Linked DNA regions of Homo sapiens. The protein of the gene in region 3 purifies or fractionates together with the protein of the main gene of each other region. This does not show direct contact. Each region holds a gene or a part of one and is shown on either strand. Other genes may lie near its edges.

Evidence for each region.
Region 1: the proteins of MFSD1 (region 3) and TMEM106B purify together in Homo sapiens (affinity purification with mass spectrometry; one large-scale study listed by BioGRID and IntAct). This does not show direct contact.
Region 2: the proteins of MFSD1 (region 3) and PSTPIP2 purify together in Homo sapiens (affinity purification with mass spectrometry; one large-scale study listed by BioGRID and IntAct). This does not show direct contact.

The regions. Positions count from the first base shown.
Region 1 is NC_000007.14:12,238,688-12,242,415, forward strand, and holds part of TMEM106B (transmembrane protein 106B), read left to right. Parts: 3' UTR 1-3,728. UniProt on the Homo sapiens protein: In neurons, involved in the transport of late endosomes/lysosomes. May be involved in dendrite morphogenesis and maintenance by regulating lysosomal trafficking.
Region 2 is NC_000018.10:45,995,619-45,999,346, reverse strand, and holds part of PSTPIP2 (proline-serine-threonine phosphatase-interacting protein 2), read left to right. Parts: intron 1-507; coding exon 508-553; intron 554-1,518; coding exon 1,519-1,598; intron 1,599-3,728. UniProt on the Homo sapiens protein: Binds to F-actin. May be involved in regulation of the actin cytoskeleton.
Region 3 is NC_000003.12:158,800,554-158,804,153, reverse strand, and holds the start of MFSD1 (lysosomal dipeptide transporter MFSD1), read right to left. Parts: upstream 2,101-3,600; 5' UTR 2,002-2,100; coding exon 1,839-2,001; intron 1-1,838. UniProt on the Homo sapiens protein: Lysosomal dipeptide uniporter that selectively exports lysine, arginine or histidine-containing dipeptides with a net positive charge from the lysosome lumen into the cytosol.

The DNA.
Region 1 (3,728 bases), on a different chromosome or scaffold from region 3:
TCTATTTGTACATCATCAGAGCTGTTGGGTGACCAGGTACATTGTCAATGAGTAGTAATACTTTGAAAGGAATTTTTTTTTCCAAGCAGGTCTCAACAATGGGCTTAAAATATTCAGTGAACCGTGTTGTAAACAGATGTCATATTATCCAGACTGTTCCATTTATTGAACACAGGCAGAGTAGGTAAAAGTTTTAAGGGTCCTAGGATTTTCAGGATGGCAAATGAGCATTGGCTTCAACTTAAAGTCACCAGCTACATTCACCACTAAAGAGAGTCAGCCTGTCCTTTAAAGCTTTAAAGGCAAGCATTGACTTCTCTTTAGCTATGAAAGTTTTAGATGGCACCTTTTTGTAAAAGAAGGTTGTTTTATCTACATTGAAAATATATTGTTCATTGTAACCACTTTCATCAATGATCTTAGCTAGATATTCTGGGTAACTTACTGCAGGTTCTCCATCAGCACTTACTGCTTCACCTTGCACTTTTATATTATGGAAACAACTTATCTCCTTAAACATCATTAACCAACCTCTTGGTAGCTTCCAACTTTTCTTCAATAGCTTCCTCATCTCTCTCAGCCTTCATAGAATTGAAGCGTGTTAGGGCTTTGTTCAGGATTAGGCTTTCACTTAAGGCAATGTTGTGGCTGGTTTGATCTATTGAAACCACTAAAACATTCCCATATCGGCAATAAGGCTGTTTGATTTTCTTATCATTCATGTTTTCTGGAACACTTTTCAATTACTTACAGTAAGGAAATAGCACTTTTAATTTCCTTCAAGAACTTTTCCTTTGCCTTCACAACTTGTGCAAGAGACCTAGCTTTCAGCCTATCTTGACTTTCCAAGATTGTCCTTGGTGAGAAATGCTTGATTACTAGGTGTAATTATTTCTAGCTTTTGATTGAAAGTGAGAGATATGTGACTCTTCCTTTTACTTGAACAGTTAGAGGCTATTGTAGGATTATTAATTGGCCTAATTTCAATGTTATTTTGTCTCAAGGAGAGAGGGATGTGGGAACAGCTGGTTAGGAGAGCAGTCCGAACACACACTTTTTTTTATTACTTTCACTGCCTTACATGGGTATGGTTCATGCTGCCTCCAAATACTTACAAAAACATCAAAGATCACTGATTACAGATCATTAAAATAGGTTTAATAATAATGGAAACATTTGAAATATTGCAAAAATTACCAAAATGCGACAGAGACATGAAATGAGAACATGCTGTTGAAAAAAATGGCACTCATAGACTTGTTGGACACAGGATTGAAAGAAACCAATTCATCAAAACCACAATATCTGCAAAACGCAATAAGGTGATGCACAATAAAAGGAAGTATATCTGCACTTCCTTCTTTTTTACTGAAAAAGCCCAAGTTCTTACTCTGGTGTTGAGAACCTTTCATTAGCTGGCTACAATCTCAGTTCACAATCATTTCTTATTGCCCTTCAACAATGTCCTGACCAAATCGAGTTCTTTCTCATTGGGAACAGTTCATTCCTTTATCCCTTCGCTCATTCTGTTCCTTTTTTCTTAGAAAAATTATTTGCCCATGTTTTTTATCCCCCAATTCTATCTTTTTCAATGCCCACTTCGTGTCCAACCCCTCTCTACTTTCCCTCTAAACTTACTCAAACACTTGGTGAACTTTTTCTGAATGTTTTTTCTGAATGTTTACTTTTAAAGGAGTTGCCCAGTCACAAAGTTTGAGCCAAGTTTTTTTGTTTTAAACTTGTTTTAAACTTTTGTTTTCATCAACTTTTTTCAAACAATTTTTGTCAGCTTAGAGGTTGTGTTTTAATTACTATTTTTAAAATCTTGTATGAGGTAGTATGATTTGAAATTAGATGGAATGTGCCCAAAATTATCTCTGTAGAATAATATGGAAAAACGAAAATGAAAAGATGTATTACCTGAATGTGCTCCTCCTAGCCAGTTTCTCAAGGGAGAAGAATCATTAATAAGTTTGTGAGGCTTTTTTTTTTTTTCTGGTAGATTTCTGTTTCCTTGATCAGTGGTTTTTCAGAATTTTTTAAAGCTTGTGAAATACTTATTTGTAAATAGCATCTTATGAGGAACCTTGATATGTGACAAAACAGATGCTTTGATTTGAGAGCAGAAGACCTGCAGCCCCTGACTGCTCACCTTTCCAGGGACCCCTGAACATTGGCCTAGAGGGTAGTGTACAGTCACTTCTTCAGTGATAACTTACTGAGTGTGATTCAACAAAACTGCTTTGGTTTATGGGTGAAACATAATTTATAACTAGGCAAATGTCAGCTTAAATTTATATTTTCTAAATAGCACTGAAAATGACAATAGACAAATGTAATTTCTGATTTTTAAGAAATGATTTTCCATTTTAACATACATTTTAAATGTTTTGTCTTCAAAGGGAATCCTTAAAAATGATATATTGGAAACCACTGATTTCTTATTTTCATTTCATGAATTTCAGATTCATGAATGGAATATATTGATAATAGCATTTTTTAAGTTGCCCCAAAAAGATGAAATACAAATAATTTTAATCCCAAATCTATTTCAGACACCTAACTTTTTTTTTATTTTTTATACTTTAAGTTCTAGGATACATGTGCAGAACGTGCAGGTTTGTTACATAGGTATACACGTGCCATGTTGGTTTGCTGCACCCATCAACCCGTCATCTACATTAGATATTTCTACTAATGCTATCCCTCCCCTAGCCCCCTACCCCACAAAAGGCCCCAGTGTGTGATGTTCCCCTCCCTGTGTCCATCTGTTCTCATTGTTCAACTCCCACTTATGAGTGGCAACATGTGCTGTTTGGTTTTCTGTTCCTGTGTGTGTTTGCTGAGAATGATGGTTTCCAGCTTCATCCATATCCCTGAAAAGGACATGAACTCATCCTTTTTTATGGCTGCATAGTATTCCATGGTGTATATATGCCACATTTTCTTTATCCAGTCTATCATTGATGGACATTTGGGTTGGTTCCAAGTCTTTACTATTGTGAACAGTGCTGCAATAAACATATGTGTGTATGTGTCTTTACAGTAAAATGATTTATAATCTTTTGGGTATACACCCAGTAATGGGATTGCTGGGTCAAATGGTATTTCTGGTTCTAGATCCTTGAGGAATCACCACACTGTCTTCCACAATGGTTGCAATTTACACTCCCACCAACAGTGTGTAAAAGCTTCCTATTTCTCTACATTCTCTCCAGCATCTGTTGTTTCCTGACTTAATGATTGCCATTCTAACTGGCGTGAGATGGTTTCTCACTGTGGTTTTGATTTGCATTTCTGTAATGACCCGTGATGATGAGCTTTTTTTCATGTTTGTTGGCTGCATAAATGTCTTCTTTTGAGAAGTGTAAGGTACTTAATTCTTAAATTAAAAAAAAATACCCGGCCGGGCACGGTGGCTCACGCCTGTAATCCCAGCACTTTGGGAGGCCGAGGCGGGTGGATCATGAGGTCAAGAGATCGAGACCATCCTGGCTAACAAGGTGAAACCCCGTCTCTACTAAAAATACAAAAAATTAGCCGGGCGCGGTGGCGGGCGCCTGTAGTCCCAGCTACTCGGGAGGCTGAGGCAGGAGAATGGCGTGAACCCGGGAAGCGGGGCTTGCAGCGAGCCGAGATTGCGCCACTGCAGTCCGCAGTCCGGCCTGGGCGACAGAGCGAGACTCCGTCTCAAAAAAAAAAAAAAAAAAAAAAAAAAAATACCCTTC
Region 2 (3,728 bases), on a different chromosome or scaffold from region 3:
TATCCTAAACCCCTGGAAATATCTTCCTTCATGTATTGGGGGTCTTCTGAACCTGAAAAACCACTGCCACATATTTGGGGGTTAGGGGAAGAGCGACAGAAGCATGGCTATGAGGGAGGGAGATGGGGTGATAAGAGGTTGGAGGGATTTCCCAGTTGTTGTCATTTTTCTTAAAGACTCAGTTCATGTATTCTTTGTAGTCAGGCTGCCTTTTGCTTGGGTGGATTACAAATTTAACTTTGTAAAATCTAGATACAAGATTTCTGCAACCAGAGGGCTGGGTGTGTCTTTAGGAAGACACTGGGCAAGATGCTTTATGGATATTTTCCAAGATTGATAAGATTGCAGGGCACGTTGAATGATTTGCTCATGAGGGAAATGTACACAGGACTTGCACTAGACCTGGTCTCTTCATAGTTACTGCTTTTCAATCTGTTTTGCCTGTGGAAGCCTCGTCCAGCATTCCCAATGCTTGCTCTTTTTTTGTTTGTTTGTTTGTTTTCACAGCTTTTTGTGAAACTGGCAACTTCAAAGACCGCAGTAGAGGACTCAGGTGAGGGGGCAGTTCCTACGGATGGGGGAGGGTTGCTGGTGGGGTTTACGTTATCCTAAATGTGTCCCTGAGAAAGGGAGTTTTATATACCTTAAAGAGAGAATATATGGATATTCAGCAGGATTAGTGAGATATCTGAAGGGAAAAAGGGAGGAAGGAAGGGAGAGAGTAAGGAAGGGAGGGAGGAAAGGAAAGAAGAGGAGAGAGGAAGGGAGGGTATATTAGAACCCCGGAAGGTGGGAGGAGGCTATGAGGCCACTGTTTCTGGCTTCTGTCTGCTTAGATCTTGCTGCCTTACATGGGAGTGAGATGGTGGAGTCATGTGGTAGCGGCTTTGCAATCAGGTGCTTCCTCTGATGTATTGGGGCATCTATCTAAAAGACCATTTCAGCCCCGGTAGCTCTTATCTGCTGTGAAACAGCCAAGCTGCAAGGCCTTGTTATCACTGAAATCTAAGACCCAAACCAGGCATTTGCAAAAGCTTCTAATTCCCAGAATATCCTGCAGGAAATATCCCTCATGACTGTGGTGGTTATGTACATCTTAATCTCTACATTTGAAACTAAAGTAACTTGGTGCCCCTTTAGGGCTCAAGGTAGTTCTCTTCTCTGCATCCTTCATCAGACAATTTTGAAAATGAAAAGCGATGGGAAATACTGAGGTGGAATTACACAAACAAAACCCTGGCTGAGGTTTCTTATCAGCTTTCACTTCTTCCTTAGAACCTTTCTTTCTCAATGTTAGGTCCAATGTTTAAAAAGAAAGTGATACCCTCCTTTGCCTACTTCACCAAATATGATGAGGGTGAGAGATGCAATAACTCCCAGTGCTCAGAGTCCTGGGGGCCTTGTAAGCTCAGCACAACTCGGATGAGTTTCTTTTGCCATCTGAGACCAGCCTGTGGGTGTATCTGCGAGCCACCTTCCTGTCTAGTTTCTGACCCAGGTCTCTCCCTTCTGTTGCAGACAAAGCATACATGCTGCACATCGGCACCCTGGATAAGGTCCGAGAAGAGTGGCAGAGTGAGCACATCAAGGCCTGCGAGGTACCCGTAACCGGAAGCTGCTCAGGACTGGGGTGGGTGGGTGGGGGTGTGTGTAACAGGAAGCTGCTCAGGACGGGGGGGGGAGGGGAGGAGGGGGAGGGGAGGGAGGGAAGGGGGAGTGGGGCCGGGGGTTGGGGGAGGACGAGGGGGCGGGAGGTGGGTCTTCTGCCCAGAACCTGGAGAGTCTACTTTTGTAGAAATGATCTGCCCGGATTCTCATAGGGTTACAGAGCTTGAGGGCAAATTAGAAATCAGAAATTTGGCCAGGCACGGTGGCCCATGCCTGTAATCCCAGCACTTTGGGAGGCCGAGGTGGGTGGATCACCTGAGGTCAGGAGTTCAAGACCATCTGGCCAACATGGTGAAACCCTGTCTCTACTAAAAATACAAAAATTAGCCGGGTGTGGTGGCGCACACCTGTAATCCCAGCTATTCTAGAGGCTGAGGCAGGAGTATAGCTTGAACCTGGGAGGCGGAAGTTGCAGTGAGCCAAGATAGTGCCATTGCACTCCAGCCTGGGCGACAGAACAAGACTCCGTCTCCAAGAAAACAAACAAACAAAAAAAGAAATCAGAAATTTAAGTGAAGAATGGAAGGAACTGGAATAGTTTTCCCCAAACCTTGTCTGCCTCATCCCCATCCTGACCATGCTGTCCAACAGTTCAAATTTTAGTCTAATGTTGGGTTAGCACAAGCATAGAATAGCTGAATCAGTTAATGGTCGATTAAGTAATTATCTTTGGAGAGCCCGGCCTCAATAGGCTCTAAAGGGAATGCCAACAGCAAGTGAGTAGGCTTTGGAGATTTGTTTGTTTGCTTTTTGTTTTGAGTCTGGGTCTCACTCTGTCGCCCAGGCTGGAGTGCAGTGGCATGATCAGAGCTCACTGCAGCCTGAAACCCCATGAGCTCAAGTGAAGTAGATGGGACTACAGGCGTGCACCACCACGCCTTGTTAATTATTTATTATTTATTTTATTTTTAAAGAGACAGGGACTTGCTCTGTTGCCCAGGCTGGTCTTGAGCTCCTGGGTCTCAAGCAATCCTTCCACCTTTGCCTCCTGAGTTGCCAGGGTTACAGGCATGAGCCACCATGCCTGGCTGGAGGGTTTTCTTTTTTTTTTTTACTCTCCTCATACCTTCAATTTCACCACTGCTCCCTTTCTTTTGCAGCAAATGACCTCACAATTTCCAAGAGAAAATAAAAAACATAACTTGGAAGCTTGCTTAAGTTTCTGTCATCCTGCCTACACATTTTCTTCCAGTGGTTCTCAAAGTGAGGTCCTAGGACTGGTAGCATCAGCATCACCTGGGAACTTGTTAGAAATGCAGGTTCTCAGACCAACCTCAGACCTACCGAATCAGAAACTCTGGGGGTAAAGCCCAGCAATCTCTGTGCTAATAAGCCTTCCAAGTGATTTTGATGGGAATTCAAGTATAAGAATCATTGACAGACACGCCTGCCCCACTCCTTTTTTCCTGTTAGCACAGAAAAGGGGCTGTTCCTTCCTTGTTCAAGATCTTTTTTCATCCAGCTTGCCTTTCCCCACCTTCTTGGGCATGGAGAACTTGTCAACTTCTGTTATCTTGCACACAGACTCAACTCTCTCCTAGCTTTAAAACCCACCAGTTCAGCCAGGCATGGTGGCTGCTAATGCCTGTAATCCCAGCACTTTGGGAGGCCAAGGCAGGCAGATCACCTGAGGTCAGGAGTTCAAGACCAGTCTGGACAACATAGTGAAACCCAGTCTCTACTAAAAATACAAAAATTAGCTGGATGTGGTGGCAAGCACCTGTAATCCCAGCTACTTGGGAGGCTGAGGTGGGAAAATCACTTGAGCCCGGGAGGTGGAGGTTTCAGTGAGCTGAGATCATGCCACTACACTCTAGCCTGGGCAACAGAGTTAGACTCCATCTCAAAAAAACCCAAAAAGCAAAAAACAAAACCAGCAGTTCTTACTTTCTATCTACGACCCCTACTACCCCCGCCCTTCTTCACAGCCACGCTTTTTGAAGGGGCTGTCTCCAAGTCCATGTTGTCCTGACTGCCCCAGCCTGCAGCATCTGGGATTTGCTTCCCTGCAGCTGCTGTCTTGGAGGGCACCAGAATCCCTTGGCATGAGGGCCAGTGGG
Region 3 (3,600 bases):
AATAACTTCCATAAATTGGTAGTGTTCATACACAGCAAATACTGGGAACCTGAATTAAAAAGTCAACAACCAACAATTAAATATTTTTCTATTTTACTTTCATCATGCTTCACACATATACTATTTTATTAATATCTTCATGAAGCATCTATATTTTATTTATTTCCTTATTTACAAACACACATACACTAAAAACTTTACAACCTCATCAGTTTCCTAATAATGTTAGCTTAAGGACAAAGGAATGGAGTGTAACCATTCTGACAAAACCAATATTTGAAACAAGTTCTCTAATTCTACAAACTACCCAAAATCAAATAATTTAGTGAATACAGGGCCAGGAGTGAAAAAAAAATGAAACTGAGAATTCTAAAGGATTAAATTAAAACATGTCTTTGGGGGAACTGGAAAGAGAGAAGTAGGGAGAGATCTGACCATGCACTCGGATTTATTTTAAAGATAAAATAATTGAGATTCCTTCGTAGGCTACAAGAAAATATTGCCTCCATAGCTCTACTAACTCTACAAGTGCACGAGGCTATTGGTTCTAATGACAATAAAAACTGTCATTAGAAAGGAATGAATCTGGCTTCTGAATTCTAGGCAGATAACCAGAATTTACCAAAAACTGTCTGTCTGCTTGAGTGGGGACCATTTTTTTTAATGTTTTATTGTTGTTCTTTCTTTGTTGTGGTGGTGGTTGTTTCTAAACCCTGCTTTAATCTCTTTTAAGGATTCAACGTCCTGCTTTAAAGCTAATGGATGGGCATCATCTTTTAAAAAACAGGGGAGGGGGGAAAAAGGAGTTGCAAGGAAACCAAAGCCCAAAGCATCCTTCATGTCTACTTATATGTTCAGCGCTAGAATAGTTATCCACCATAATGTTCTTAAACCTGCTGATTACACGGGCTCCAGCTAGCCTCCTGAAAAACACATTCATACCAAATTAATATTAGAATTTTGCTTAATAAATTAAAAACTGTAACATAGGAAGGAAAATTTTTTTCTAATTATCAAGAAACTGTTTTCGGAGACATCAGATTTCATAAGAGAAACCAACCACTGTCAAGACTACCACAAGTCCCGTCCAATATGATTGCTTCACAGTGGCAGAGTGGAAGATTAAGAGAACAATATCTATTCACTGAAGCTATCAGCAAGACACACTCATACATTTTCTCAAAGAGGGTGAAAAATATATAGAAGACTGCCGACGAAATCATTCACGTTTTTTAAAAGCTGGACAACATTGTAAGACCCTGTGTCTAAAAATAATAATAATAATAAAGCCGGGTGTGGTGGCGCCCCATCTGTGGTCCCAGCTACTCGGGAGGCTGAGGCGGGAGGATTGCTTGAACCCAGGAGGTGGAGGCTGCAGTAAGCCACTTTCACAACACTGCACTCCGGGCTGGGTGACAGAGCAAGCCCCTGTCTCACCTAAAACCAAACAAACAAAAGTTGTTTAGGAACAGTTAAAGCTTTCTGAATTTCCTCCGACCACGTGTGCCAAAAGAGGAACCTTGAAAATCTGGAGTTACCTTCATATCTATCGCCTCTAGGGCGAGTCGCTAGCCCCTGGGACTTACTGAAGAGCAAAGGAGTGCCACAAAACTCGCCCAGCTCAGTCCCTCGACCTCCACGTTCCGGACGCGGAGTAACTAGCAACATCCACAGGTGTGGCTGGAATCGATCGCAAAGGGGAAAATAAGGAGGCCCAGGAGCTTAAGACAGAAGCTGCGCTGAGGCCCCGTGGCACCAGTGACCACGATGACGATCTACCTCGAAGAGAAAGTCGGGAATTCCTTAAAGATCAGCCCCAACCCACCCGGCCGGCTCACCAAAGCCAAGGAAGCACATCAGTAACAGCACCAAAAGCCGGTGCGCCAGGCGACTGGGGTCGCAGAGGGCCGGCAGGGCTCCAGGGGCGGCCGGGGCACCTCTGTCGGCCTCGTCAGGGCCGCCTGCCAGGAGCGCCCGCGCTTCCTCATCCTCCTCCTCCATTGCGCCCGCAGGAGACGGAGAGGGGAAAGTGGTGACAACTCCAAACCCAGGCAGGAAGCAGCGCCCGTGGAACACTGTCAAGACGGCGGTCACATGACTCCGGGAGCTCACGTGACGCCCCGGCAGGTCACGCAGGGCCACGCCCATGTGAGCGGCCGCGAGCGCTGGGAGGACGGACCCAGCGGTCGATGACAGGGCCTGGCGCGGTTCGCTTTTCCTGGGTGACTGTGTTCGTGGGGCTGAGGCCCTCGAGGTGCCCACTTCCAGCTTTCCACCAATTACTGCACTGTCTTTCCGTTTCCTGCCCCGCTGACGCGTACACCTATTTCAGACTCAGCGCAGCTCCGCGGGGAGAAAAGTGCGGGGCTCCCTCTCGGCTCCACACCAGACTCCGGAGTAGTTCGAACTGCGCTGGGGTCGCCAAGACGCGCGCTGCCCTTCTCCCAGCACTGCCCTCCCCAGCGTCTTTGACCACTCTTAATACCCACAAACTTGATCGGACAATTTCTGGTGTGTCCAGCCATGTGTCACGTACTGGGAATACAAAATAGAATGAGGCAAGCTCCCTGACCTCAAAGATTTCAGAGTTCAGTTGGAGAAATCGACAGAATCTGGTACTTTTAAAACTAAACATGATGAATGAATGTGGTGAGAACAGCGGCAGAAAATGGCACTGAATTCCATAGAAATATCTGGAAAGGTCATTTCAAAAGGGGAGAAAAGGTGCGTAGTTTAGCCAGCTTTCAGGGCAAGGGAGTGAGGGGCGCTGAAGCTCCTTGAAGTTGAAACCCAGGCTAGAATGAGTAAGAATGCGCCAGTCAGGGTGCTTGTTTGAGCGGGTTGGTTGCAGGGCGGGCAGTTACGAGGGATAATAAAGACAAAAGCGTGAAACAGAACTGGGTGTGTATGTGTTTGTGTTGAACGACAGAGAAGGAACTCGAGTAGAAACACTAAACCTGTTTCAAGAAGAGCCATGCAAGGATTTTGAGCACAGCAGCAGGACTGCAAGCTTTGTGTTTTAAAAAACATTCGGTCTGCCAGCACAGCACCATCGTCGCTTTCTGGGAGCCCTCAGGCTTTACTAACAGAATTTTGAGGGCGTCAAAGCTAGAGGCTGAAAACTGTGAGGATTATTAGGAAGATGCTGCAGTCGTAACGATTAGAGATGACGAGGGCCTGTTAGCAATAAAAAGCAGGAATGGCACAGAAGAAAATCAGTAATTATTTAGGAGGTAAAATGGGAATAACTGTAAATAATAGCCTATGCGATCTGAAAGAGAGGAAAGACTTGAGAGTGTCTCCCAGATTTCTAGCTTGGGCCGCCAATAGAGATCAAAATTTAGAGAGAGAAGGAGGTAGGAGAGAGTGTCAAGGATCAGGTGCTGCCTTTGAGATGTCTATACATATCTCCACTTTCACAGTCCATTCTCTCTTCAGCTCCAGTGGAGGAGCTCCCGATCTAATAAAACTGTCTTGCCGAGAGGAGTAATAACTCCATCTTTCCAAATACATTAGTCACTTCTCTGTCATCTTACTCAACTTCTATCAATTGATGGAATTGACAGCCACTCCTTTTTAGCCTCCTTGGCACCATACTTG